Homo sapiens: one gene and its partner. The protein of the gene in region 1 purifies or fractionates together with the protein of each later gene. This does not show direct contact. Each region holds a gene or a part of one and is shown on either strand. Other genes may lie near its edges.

Region 1 (3,500 bases):
TCTTGGAAGCTATTAATTGTGCAAAGCACTGTGTTAAACCTTTGGGGTGTGCAAACTTCAGGGACACACAGAACAGTTCAATTCAGTGATAGCATTTGGGGAAAAAGTTTTTTCTACGAGTTAACCTTTAAGCTATGCCTTGAAAAATGAGTAGCGTTTCAACAAACTAAAGGTGTAAAGTAGCATTTCTGACTAACAGAAAGGCATTACCTGTGGAATAGACAAATGCTCTATTTGTCTCTAACTGAGGCTTGCTGGGATGAACATGGAAGAGGCTCGAGAGGGAGGCTGGTACTAATCAGGGAGGGTCTCAGACCCACTGGAAGAAGTGTAGGCTTTTTTTTCCTGGAGGTAGTAGAAATCCATGAATTATTCTGAGGCAGAAGTGATATGAAATCTATATTTTATTATGATGGTTTTTAGACTCATTTAGAAATTGGGCAAATGGAAAGTGTAGTGACCTTGACAGAACATTATAACATATTAATTAAAAATTTAAATTCATAAATTCATAAATGTAGGCCAAATCAAGATACCATATTTTAGATTTTGATATACTATCAACAAACAATAACAGATTTGCTCATCGTCACTTATTCGACTAATATTTGAATGCTTTTTATGTGCATTATATTCTAGATACTAGGGATACAATAGTGAAAAAAACAAACAGCTCCTGTCCTTCTGGAACAACGGAAATACATGAAAAAAGACTGTTTTGCATTTGTTTTACTTTGGGAGGGCCTGGGAGACAGGAAAATGCAAAGACACTCTTTGAGCGCCAATGTGATGCTTAAAGGAAATACTCATTTGAGCATTTTGGATTTCTGGAATTGGAATGCCCAACTGGTATAATGCAGATGTTCCAAAACCCAAAGAAAATCTGAACCCTGAAACATGTCTGGTCCCAAGCACCTCAGATAAGGGATACTCAGCCTATACTATATGATCTAGCAATCCACTTCTGAGTATGTATCCAAAACGATTGAAAGCAGGATCTCAGGGAGACATTTGCATACCCGTGTTCATAGCAGCATTATTCATAATAGCCAAGAAGTGGAAGCAGCCCCAAAGTGACATTTCAGTTTTCCCCCTGCATTCGCTTGTCCTGGATGAGAATAGAAAGGACCATGTGTGACCTTCATTAGGGAAAGAAAAGAGAAAATTGCAGAGAAGATAAGTCTTTTCTCTAACAGTTCCCAAAATCCGTAACTGAAGTGTTTGGGCCTTCCAGATTTTCCTCTATGGGATGCGAATGACTTGGAATTTTGGGAATTCCAACTCCCCATCTCTAATTTTATTTAAATTGCTTTCTCAATTGACTGACGAAGATTAGTTGGACCCCATTTCTGAACAAGCTTGTTACACAGAAATGTTGCCAGGGCCTACTGTTTATCCTCTTGAGCCAAGAAGAGAATCCTTCAGACTTCTAAGTTACTGAACACATGCAGTATCAGAACTATTGGATACACAGAAAGTTTTGTTGTAGATAATATATTTGGAAAGTTTGGAGAAAGTTCCTCTACCCCTTGCCTTCTTTGAGCGGAGAGCTTCTTAGGATTGCTTGAATTTGCAGGCTGCATTTCTAACAGCCCTCATGGGACCTGCTGGCCTTTCTGGGCTGATTCTCTATAGCACGGGAACCGTTATGTGAACATGTGAGTTGATTATCTTTAACATTGTGTGTGGGAACAATGATAGAATAAGGACATTGCAATTTGAAGATCATAATGACATTGTTTTTTGTTTTTGTTTCGTTTTGTTTTTTGAGATGGAATCTCGCTCTGTCGCCCAGGCGGGAGTGTAGTGGCACGATCTTGGCTGACCATGGCCTCCGCCTCACAGGTTCAAGCAATTCTTGTGTCTCAGCCTCCCAAGTAGCTGGGACTACAGGCATGCGCCACCATGCCTAACTAATTTCTGTATTTTTAGTAGAGATGGAGTTTCAGCATGTTGGCCAGGGTGGTCTTGAACTCCTGACCTCATGTGATCCACCTGCTTTGGCCTACCAAAGTGTTGGGATTACAGAGGTGAACCACTGTGCCCAGCCCATAAATGACATTGTTGATTTAGGTAAAGGTCATCAATGGAAGGTTGATAAGGATCTTTACAATGTTGAATTCAGGCTGGCATCACCTGAACCACCTAAGAGAGGGACAACCACACATTATATGATTTCTGATGTGATGTAATATGAAGTACAAAGAATATACTTATGAAGTATATTCTTGCCGTCCCTCCTCCCCCCACCACCAAAAAAAGCGAGCCTGAATCCACTCAAGCCTTGAGAGCAGAATTCCAGCTCACATAAAATGCAAGAATATGGCCGGGCACAGTGGCTCACACCTGTAATCCCAGCACTTTGGGAGGCTGAGGTGGGTGGATCAGTTGAAGTCAGGAGTTCGAGACCAGCCTGGCCAACATGGTGAAACCCCTTCTCTACTAAAACACAAAAATTAGCTGGGCGTGGTGTTGTGTGCCTGTAATCCCAGCTACTTGGGAGGCTGAAGCAGGAGAATTGCTTGAACCTGGGAGACAGAGGTTGCAGTGAGCCAGGATTGTGCCACTGCACTCCAGCCTGGGCGACAGAGTGAGGCTCCATCTCAAAAAAAAAAAAAAAAAGCAAGATTAAGTTAAATGACACCATGAGCTAGAAAACAGACAAATCCAGAATTTAGGACATTCTACAGGACAATTGACTCAACTGCTTCAGCAAGTCAGACACAAGGGAGGACAGGGAGAAGATACTGCTCTATATTAAAAGAGATTAATATAGACTGAATAGAAGATGATACCAAGAAACTAGTGTTGGTATTGCTAGATGTAATAATGGCATTGTTGTATGAGAAAATGCTTATGTTTTTTAGAGATACATTCTGAAGTATGTAGGAATGTAATGATGTGATGCCTTGATTTTATTTTAATATACTACAAAAGGGAATAGAAGAAGAAGAGCGAGATAGATGAAACAAATGGAGCAAAATGTTGATAATTGTTGAATCTGAGTGGTGGTTTATTACTGTCTACTGTGGTATAGGTTTGAAAATTTTATATGATTGTATTTTACATATAATATTTCTTATAGATAGGTAGATATTAGTATGTGGGGACAATAGTGGTTATCTCTGAGTGGTGAGATTACAGAGTAGATTTTCTTTAATAAAGTTTTGTATGGTCTGTATTTTCTACAATCAGCATGTACTGTTTATTTTTCATTTTATTTGTACATTTTTTGATTTAAGCATTTTCTGCAATAAGCATGTCCATAATATTAAAAATGTAAAAAAGTTTTATATTAATATAGGACTAACCCTATTTACACTTAGTTTTCAGAGTTTATCTACAAGGCATGGTTTTCTGATCCTAACCCCCTCAAAAAATAGAAAGATCATTGCTTAACTATCAGGTTAGGAAATGCTTTTTTCTAGAGCAGCTGTAGCACTTTCAAAATTAGATCACTGGCTTATATTTTGCCACGAAGTGCAGAAAAGCATTTTTGA
Region 2 (3,500 bases), on another chromosome or scaffold:
TTGTGATCCACCCGTCTCGGCCTCTCAAAGTGCTGGGATTACAGGTGTGAATCACCATGCCCGGCTAGAAGAGCTTTATGTTCATGATGCTGAGATGAAGTTGGGGCCAGAAGAAGAGTCAGTTGATAAAAGCTAAAGTATTTTTAGATCCTGATTAAAGAAGAAGGTAATGGGTTGACTTGAGAGAGAATGAGCGTTCTGTTATGGGAATGCTCATATGGGAAATGTTCTGTCTCTTTGTCAAAAACTGCAGGACCACCTGTTGGTGACATTGGAGGAATTCCTGCTTTGTGTGGGAGGGTGAACTAGATGCCTTTAAAAAAAATTTCCCCCCCACAGACTTGTTTTAGATATTTTACTGCTTCAGAGAGGGTCATGTTCACACCATTCTCCCCTTTTGTAATTTTTCACACCTCCCTGGCTCCCCTTTTATAATTTAGAAAGAGGTTTAGAAGTCTGTAACTTTTTGTATTAGATTTACTTTGAGAAATCTTGTACTTAATTTAGTAGGTCACAGAGGGTTGCTGAATGACTGGAAACTTGTGTTTCTTTTCCATTAAGGGCTATTTGCTGACTTCTGAAATATTGATGATTTATTTGACTTTAGAATTTTGCATACTGAGGGGAAAGCATCTTAATGTATCATTTAAAGCAGGAGATACTTTCATACTATACCTGGGTTCTCTTGGCTTTGAAGAGGAGGGTGGTCATGAGATATTGAAAGATTGCATGGGTGGCTTGTAATCCCAGCACTTTGGGAGGCTGAGGCGGGTGGATCATCTGGGGTTAGGAGTTCAAGACCAGCCTGGCCAACACGGGGAAACCACATCTCTACTAAAAATACAAAAATTAGCCAAGTATGGTGGCGCATGCCTGTAATCCCAGCTACTCAGGAGGCAGGAGAATCACTTGAACCCAGGAGGTGGAGGTTGCAGTGAGCCAAGATCGTGCCAGTGCACTCCAGCCTGGGCAACAAAGCGAGACCTTCCCAAAAAAGGAGGACTTCATGGGTAGATATGAGCAATGGTGAGAAGCACCTGGAATATGTCATGGAAGTCCGTGAGATAGTCATGAATGCCATTCTTTCAGCAAATATTCATGGAGTATGCCTACCAGATATGAGGTACTGTTTTAGATGCTGGGTGTAGTCAGAGTCTCTGCCCTCAAGAAATGTGTCACTTATACGATATTTATTATCATTGACTTAATATAGTGACTTAAGGGTAAAGTGCTTTGATGGCAAACTTGAGCTTGAGCAAGCATCAAAACATGGTGGATTTTGTCACTGAGTGGTTTGGCTGTATGGCTAAAGAACCTTGTTTTATTTTATTTTAGTTTTAGTTTTAGTTTTGGAGACAGAGTCTCACTCTATTCCCCAGGCTGGAGTGCAATGGCATGATCTTGGTTCACTGCAACCTCTGCCTCCCGGGTTCAAGCCATTCGCAGGCCTCAGCCTCCCGAGTAACTGGGATTACAGGCACCTGCCACCACACCCAGCTAATTTTTGTCTTTTTAGTAGAGACGGGGTTTCCCCATGTTGGCCAGGCTGGCCTTGAACTCCTGACCTCAGGTGATCCACCTGCCTGGGCCTCCCAAAGTGCTGGGATTACAGGCGTGGGCTACTACGCCTGGCCAAGAACCTTGTTTTAAAAATAGGAAGATTTTTGTCGTCTGGAATTTAGTATCTCAGAGAATAATTCTGTTTGTTTCTCAGTGAGGTTAGTTTGTGCAGTAATATGAAATGTGATCTTGTTTGGTTATTCAGGAGAAGACCTTAAAAATAGAAGTAACCTTAATTGGTAGACATTTCTAATTGGTAGACTTCAGTTTTAATTTTCAGGACACTTGAAATTGACAGCATCAGTGACAAGTTACCTTGGCTCTTGCCCTTAATCCCAGTATTTTAGGAGACCGAGGCAGGAGGATTGGTTGAGCCCCAGGAGTTTGAGACCAGCCAGGGCAACATAGTGAGAGCTCATCTCTACAAGAAAAAATTAGCCAGGTGTGGTGGTGCACGCCTGTGGCCCCAGCTATTCAGGTGGCTTAGGTGGGAGAATTGCTGGAGCCTGGGAGGTTGAGGCTGCAGTGAGCGGAAATTGTGCCACTGGACTCCAGCCTGGGTGACAGAGCTGAGACTCTGTCTCAAAAAAAAAAAAAAATCATAATCCTCATTCATCAAGCATTTATTGATGACTGGTATATACAAGGCACTGCTGTCTATTGTGGCGGATGTGAAGTGTATTTAACACTCCTGTCTTTAAAGAGTTTGGCTTTGTGTGTGTGTGTGTGTGTGTGTGTGTGTGTGTGTGTGTTTGGAACAGGGTCTCACTGTGTCACCTAGGCTGGAGGGCAGTGGCACAATCATAGCTCACTGCAGCTTCAACCTCCTGGGCTCAAGTGATCCTCCCGCCTCAGCCTCCTGAGTAATTGGGACTACAGGCATGTGCCACTGTGCCTGGATAATTTTTAAAAAATTTTTTGTAGGCCAGGCGCGGTGGCTCACGCTTGTAATCCCTGCACTTTGGGAGGCCGAGGCGGGCGGATCACGAGGTCAGGAGTTTGAGACCGTCCTGGCTAACACAGCGACACCCCCTCTCTACTAAAAATACAAAAAAATTTAGCTGGGTGTGGTGGCGGGTGCCTGTAGTCGCAGCTACTCGGAAGGCTGAGGCAGGAGAATACTTGAACCCGGGAGGTGGCGCTTGCAGTGAGCTGAGATCGTGCCACTGCACTCCAGCCTGGGCGACAGAGTGAGACTCTCTCAAAACAAAACAAACAAACAAAAAATACATACATAAATACATTTTTTTCTTTTGTAGAGACTGGGTCTTGCTGTGTTGCCTAGTCTGACCTTGAACTCCTGGGCTCAAGTGATGCTTTTGCCTTGTGCTCCCAAAGTGCTGGGATTACAGATGTGAGCCATTGTTCCCGGCTGATTTTGTATTTATCATTATAATACAAAGTAGAGGATATGTGCTCTGCATGTGGCATAGCAATGTAAGTATCAAGTGGAATTAAGGAGTAAAGGTGAAGTGGAAAAGTATTTCTCTGCCTAGTAGAAGAATATTGCATTGGGTTTCAAATAGATAATTTGCCCTAAAATGTTGTGTGCAGATCATATTTTTTATAAATTTTTAAATTTGTTGCCTTGTATTTCTAATTTCAGAAATGCTTTATTTTTATTTCTGATTGAGCGTAAGATGTCCACTGCTCTTTTAGCATTTTTCTCAACTTTTCAGCTTCTCTGCCAGTTGGTAATTTGTAAATTGAGAAATATTTTGTGTCATCAATTCTATTTTATTTATTTATTTATTTGAGACGGAGTCTCACTCTGTCGCCCAGGCTGGAGTGCAGTGGCTCGATCTCAGCACACTGCAACCTCTGCCTCCTGGGTTCAAGCAGTTCTCTGCCTCAGACTCCAGAGTGGCTGGGACTGCAGGCACATGCCACCACGCCCGGCTAATTTTTGTATTTTTTAGTAGAGATGGGGTTTCACTGTA

Evidence for each region. The genes of interacting proteins can lie anywhere in the genome.
Region 2: the proteins of RAD51AP1 (region 1) and WDR20 purify together in Homo sapiens (affinity purification with mass spectrometry; one large-scale study listed by BioGRID and IntAct). This does not show direct contact.

What each region holds. Positions count from the first base shown.
Region 1 is NC_000012.12:4,548,890-4,552,389, forward strand, and holds part of RAD51AP1 (RAD51-associated protein 1), read left to right. Parts: intron 1-3,500. UniProt on the Homo sapiens protein: Structure-specific DNA-binding protein involved in DNA repair by promoting RAD51-mediated homologous recombination.
Region 2 is NC_000014.9:102,146,397-102,149,896, forward strand, and holds part of WDR20 (WD repeat-containing protein 20), read left to right. Parts: intron 1-3,500. UniProt on the Homo sapiens protein: Regulator of deubiquitinating complexes. Activates deubiquitinating activity of complexes containing USP12. Anchors at the base of the ubiquitin-contacting loop of USP12 and remotely modulates the catalytic center of the enzyme.